2 separate regions of the Homo sapiens genome follow, and region 2 is linked to region 1. Evidence: fine-mapped expression QTL. A gene starts in region 1. The other region holds a variant in brackets. All regions are shown on one strand. Distances are from middle to middle. Region 1 holds the start of BUB3 (BUB3 mitotic checkpoint protein). Region 2 overlaps C10orf88 (chromosome 10 open reading frame 88).

The links. PIP is the estimated chance that this variant, and not a neighbour inherited with it, causes the effect.
Region 2: its variant is the best candidate, but not a certain one, in a credible set for the expression of BUB3 in esophagus mucosa (GTEx, PIP 0.70).

The regions. Positions count from the first base shown.
Region 1 is chr10:123,152,751-123,155,651 of GRCh38, reverse strand. BUB3 (BUB3 mitotic checkpoint protein) reads right to left here and starts at 1,250. Exons shown (of 8, transcript NM_004725.4): 1 at 1,167-1,250; 2 at 540-734. The coding sequence starts at 734. RefSeq lists enhancers at 600-669, 1,400-1,559, 1,396-1,565, 1,285-1,579 and a cis regulatory region at 1,480.
Region 2 is chr10:122,931,736-122,934,654 of GRCh38, reverse strand. It overlaps C10orf88 (chromosome 10 open reading frame 88), which reads left to right. Exons shown (of 6, transcript NM_024942.4): 6 at 1,994-2,919. The coding sequence ends at 2,228. Among named protein-coding and RNA genes, the nearest start is that of C10orf88, 21 kb to the left of the region's middle. The variant G/A (reference allele first, on the strand shown) is at 1,489.

The sequences.
Region 1 (2,901 bases):
AATAGTTTTGAACCGTTTAAAAACTAGAACTTTTGAAAGGGTTTCAACATTCTTATTTCTACAAGCAAGTGTTCAGTTTATGCTCGGGATATGCACTGGGCTCAACTATTCATGGTAAACAAACCAAAAAACAGCATAAAAAAGCAAGTGGTCACTAAACTCCTGTGTCTGGAAATTAAAGGAGGGCTGCTTTATCCTAGCCAACACGCTAGCTGAGGGTAAACATACATTTCCCCTAAACGGTTCCTTTCAATACGGCAGCCAAAACAGTATTGTTGCAAATATAATGATCGTATTTTCAGAAAGTTTAGAGTTACTCCACAAGCGTGTAACAGAAAAGGGGAGACGGAGTTTCCAATGTCTGCATGTCTCCAACCCAAAACGGTACAGGTTCAAGGCAGATGCTCCTGAAAAGCTAAAGAACTGTCCAAATAACCCCACCGACAGACGCCTCTACCCAACACTGGAAAAGAAACGCTCCTCACGTGGAGAATCGTTAACACAGTAAGAGGGCAGGAGCAGGGCGGGAGGGCACCTACGTAGAAGGCGCAGTCCAGGACGGCGCCGGTGTGCTGGTACTTGAGCCGCATGGAGTTGGCCGGCACATCGTAGAGACGCACGGACGTGTCCCAGGAGGAGACAAGCAGGAACTGGGAGGTGTTGGGGCTGAACTTCACGGAGGAGATGCCATCCTCGGGTGGCTGGTTCAGCTTGAACTCGTTAGAACCGGTCATCTGCAGAACAGGCGCCCAGAGTCCCCAGGGGTCCCGCGGGCTGGGGCTGCGCACTGACAGCCTGGCACTGGGGGTCCCCCCAGAGGGAGGGGCCGAGAGGACGACCGCGAGGAGACTCTGCGCTTGCGCCTGCGCCGAGCACTCGCCCGCCAAGGTCCGGACTCGCCCCATCATCCGGCCCCCGCCGCGCCCAAACCGGCCCAGCCCGCACCGCCGTCCCCCTAAACCCAGCCCGGCCCACAGCGATGCCCGGACCCCAGACTGTTCCCTTTCCCCTCTCCCGGGGTCCCGTCGCCCCGGGCACTCCTAAAAATAAAGGGAAAACAACAGAAACGAAACGGGATCCCCTGCGAATCGAACGGCCCTGCCAGTTGCGGACCCGGGAAGTCCCTGGAGAGCCCGCTCCCGCACACCGTCGCCTCGCCTCCCTACCTTGGGCTCCCCTCAGAAGCAACGTTTCCACTACTCGCCACTCGCTGCGGCCGCCGCCGCCTCCTTGCTTCCCTCAGAACACTCGCAGGCTAGGCGAAGGAGGCGGAGAGGAAGCTCCAGTGTAGACCTGCCATTGGCTGATTTCAAACGCCAACGTCTCAGTCTAGGGGGCCGATTGGTCCGCTCAGCTGCCCAGCATCGGTCAACCCAGTCATCCTGTTCCGGCTCAAAGGGAAACCGCTGCTTTTCCGATCACGTGGGCTCATTTTACCACCGCGCTGGGGCATCAGCGTTCGAGCTGGACGCGTGGAAACTACACCTCCCAAGGAGCATCGCGCCAAGGCTCTGTTCATGCCCTCTCCCGCCTGCGTATGGCATTCTGGGAAATGTAGTTTTCTAGGGGCTGACGCTCTGCCCGCCCTCTTCATAGAAAGCGGGAAAGATCTTTACAGCTCTGTCCATGGCGCCCTCCCCTTGAAGTTAGTCTCTGAAACACAAGAATCCCATTTTGGGCAATACTTATATAGTCCTAAAGTTGTCTCCCTATCCCTGGGCGTGCACACGCCCGTGAAGCTAACCAAAAGTTGATGTAGAGGAGGAAATATTTGCTCTATCAACTGCATTATTTTGCCTTGATTTTTTTTTTCTCATTTCTTGGGAATTTCCACCTATAAACCAGGGTCTCCCATTTCCCATTGTCTCAAGTTCTGCTGAAGAAACCCATTCATATTTATATTATGCTTTATCTCTCCACCCCATCTTTCCACAAACATTTATTGAGCCTCCACTGGCGCCAGGCCTGGTGAGAGGCTCTGGAAAGATGCATGTAATCAGACCAGCCTTTGCCCTTCAGGAACCCCCCTTCAGAAGGGTGAACAGCCTGGGAGACAGTACTCTGCAATGTGTTAAAGCTCCCACCACTTCTTTTAGAGCTCTTTTTTGAAGGGTCCTGAAACGACAGCTACAAGCCTCTCCCCTTCCACTCTGTCCTGCCACTCCCCAAAGTTGCAGGCTCAGTGTGCTCCATTTGCTGTTTTCTAGAATCCTCTAGAAATGAGGATCAAGAAGGTTGCTTGAGTATGAGAAATTATTTTATCTCCATGAAAGAAAAGCAATACTTAATCAGTAGAATGAAGTGACTGAGTTATTCTTGAATGTCAAAGGCTCACTGAAAAATTTCAATTTAATCCATGCTTTAACCGCTTTTTCACTGCCTTTTGTAAAAGAAAAATATATATCGTTTTATTTGATTTTGTGTGAAGTGAGAGAAAATTGTGGGGTTAAAGTGATTAACTTTTAAGGGACATTAATGAGAAAGTGTTGATGATCTTTATGCATTCACACACCCTGAATTGGATGCACCTCTTTCTGTGATTCCTGACACAAGAAACACACATACAACAACAACCTTTCTGCCTACTGCATTGATGACATTACTGCTGAAAGACTCTTGCCCTCCTTCCTTGCCAGTCCTGGTACTTGGTTCTCTATCTCTTCTCTTTCCACAAGTTAATGGCTGAATTCAAAATTTTGAAATGCAGTTCCTTACTTCCATTCTAACTTTAGCTAAATAATTTTACCTCCTGACTTATCTGGTTCCTTCTCCCAGTTGTTTATTTAATTATATTATTGTTCCAAGATTCTGAGCATGAATTACCCACTAATAAAATCTAAGTGTATTTCATTATCCAGTGTGTGTATGATTCAGGTCCCTCTGGGCATGCAGTTGCAGCCC
Region 2 (2,919 bases), 220 kb after region 1:
GCTCAGGTCCACACAGAAACTTGTACACAGTTATTAATAAAAGCTTTCTTTGTAATATCCCAGAAGTCCCAACTAAAATGTCTTAGCAATAGGTGAATGGTTAAACTATGGTACCTCCATATCACGCAGTGCTGATGAGCAGTAAAAAACAACTTGGACATCTCTCAAAGGCATTTTGCTGAGTGACAAAAGAGAATCTCAAAAGGTCACATACTGTATGATCTCACTTTATAATATTTTCAAAATAATAAAACTGTAGAGATGAACAACATATTGATGGTTACCAGGTATTAGGGAAAGAAGACTTTAGGGGAGTAGGTATGACAATAGAGGGGTAGCAGGGAGGAGATCATTGCAGTTAAAGAATGGTTCTGCCTTTTGATTATGGTGGTGTTTAAATAAATATGTGTACATATGATAAAATGGCATAGAACTATACACACACATCATATTAATATCAATTTCCTGGTTTTGATATTGGATTATAGGTAGATAAGATGTGACCATTGGGAGGATTGGATAAAGGGCACTGAGAAACTAATATCTTTGCAACTTCCTGTGAATCCATAATTATTTCAAAATACAGAGTTTCTTAAAAACTGTCTTTGGTGTATTCTAGAGTAGTGGCTCTCAGACTTTTGGTCTTTACACTCTTAATTGAGGACTCCAATAAACTTATGTAGGCTACATAAAAATATTTGTTTAAAAATAACAATAAACCCACTGTATATTAACATAAATAACAGTCTTTATGAAAAAAAGCCAGATTTTCTTTTAAAATTTTATTGAGAATAGTATTATTTTAAATGTACATGAATCTATACATAATAGCTTTTGGCTGCATTATCATGTATATTGAATTATAGCATGTATAGTGAAATATAGCTAGTAAGAGCACAGTAGGAATACTGAGAACAGAGTGGATTAATCTCTGAAAAAGCATATATTTATACACTAAATCTCTACTACCTTGAAATTTTAGGAAAGAAGAATACACAACTACAGATTCTGTTAGTCATCAGGGCAATAACATAGATTTTGTAGCCTCTGGAAAATTCATGAGTATGAGGATGAGAAAGTCGAATAACATCTTAGTATAAACATACTTCTGACCTCAGTGAATTCCCAAAAGAATCATGGAGACCCCAAGGTTCTGTGGACCACATTCTGAGAGTTACTGTTCTTGTTTTGAGACGGAGTCTTATCACCCAGGCTGGAGTGCAGTTGCGCAATCTCAGCTCACTGCAGCCTCTGTCTCCCGGGTTCAAGCAATCCTCCCAGGTAGCTGGGACTACAGGCGCCCACCACCATACCCAGCTAATTTTTGTACTTTTAGTAAGAGACAAGAGTTTCACCATGTTGGCCAGGCTGGTCTCGAACTCCTGACCTCAAGTGATCCACTCACCTCAGCCTCCCAAAGTGCTGGGATTACAGGCGTGAGCCACCGTGCCTGCCCTGAGACTTACTGTTCTAATGTTCATTGTGAAC[G/A]TTAGAAATTGGTGTGCTTTTTATTTATTTTGTTAGTTTGCCCATTCTAGTTAAATTCTGAAGTGTTTTTATACCAGGTTAAAAAAAAGAACCTTCTAGTAGTTTAGTAAGGTTGTTTGTATGAAGGAAGAAAAACTTTATAGAGTTGGTTGGGGAAGTATTTGAAAATATGCATGTTGACTTTAGAAGAAAATTGGGCCAGATCAGTTTTGATTTGGACCTCAAAATCAAAAAGACCCTTTCTAAAGACTTGCTCTTTGAGGGTTCCTTTTCACTTTTACATTTCTGTTCAATTGTATACTAAAAAAGAATTAATAATGTGTTGGGCATTTAGGGCTGTGGTTGCCTATTGTGGATGTGTATTAGGACCTAGAAATGCATTGTAAGAAGACAGAGCACAGTTGTGGAGACAAATCTCAGCAATATATGTTGGCTGCTTGTTTTATAAGCTTGGTTGTTTTTGTTATTAGGGAAAATTTACACATTTTTAAAAATGTATTTTTAGAATGGAAGAGCAATCTATTTGCTCCTACTTGGAAAAGATTCTTTCTAAAAATATGGAACTGATGGAAAAGAAACTTATGGATTACATTGATCAGCGAATACATGAACTCCAGGAGCACATTGATGATAAGATTGCTTTGTTACTGGATTTGCTGCAAAATCCTAACTCCCCGCCCACTGGGATACCTCTAAGACATTATGACTCTGGAGAAAGACTTTCAAATGGAGAAAGATAAGCTCTCAACATAAACAGTGTACTGCAGATATTTATTACATATTTATTACAAAGCCAAAACCCAAAAATATTTATAAAAAGCAAGTATTTAATGTCCTTTGAGGGATCATTGTCTTACACAAAGTGACCTCAGTTTTCGTTTTTACTACACTTGTTATTTTAAATCCAGTACTGTACACTGAGTTAATATGATACAGTCAAATTATTTTTGCTCACGATATTTTTCAGTCTTACAGAAATGTATGTATATTTGTGTTAAGAGTTTAAAATGCTTGAGGATTTCTAATACAGTTCATTAGTTTGTATTGTATATGTGTTTAAGTATAATTTTTATTTATACAAAGATCTTATAGTCTTAGAAGTATGAAAAATAATGCTTAAGAGTATTTGATTTTTTTCTTTTTCTAATTATCTTGGAAAATTGGATACTTAAGACTTGGAGCCTTTACTTCAGATTACCAGTTTACATTTTGTATTGCTTGTGTGAGATAATGAATAAGATGTGATATTTGGCATGTGTAAACTTAGTTCACTCTGGGGTTGTTAATATTATTTGTTTCATTACAGAGTAGCTGTAGGTAGGAAAGTAAACATCAGAACTAGCCTAGTCCTTGTTACGATTAGTACTTTGGATTTGATTTTTCCTGTAAAACAGATGCAGTCATCTTGTTTGACCTCAGTAACCCCAGACA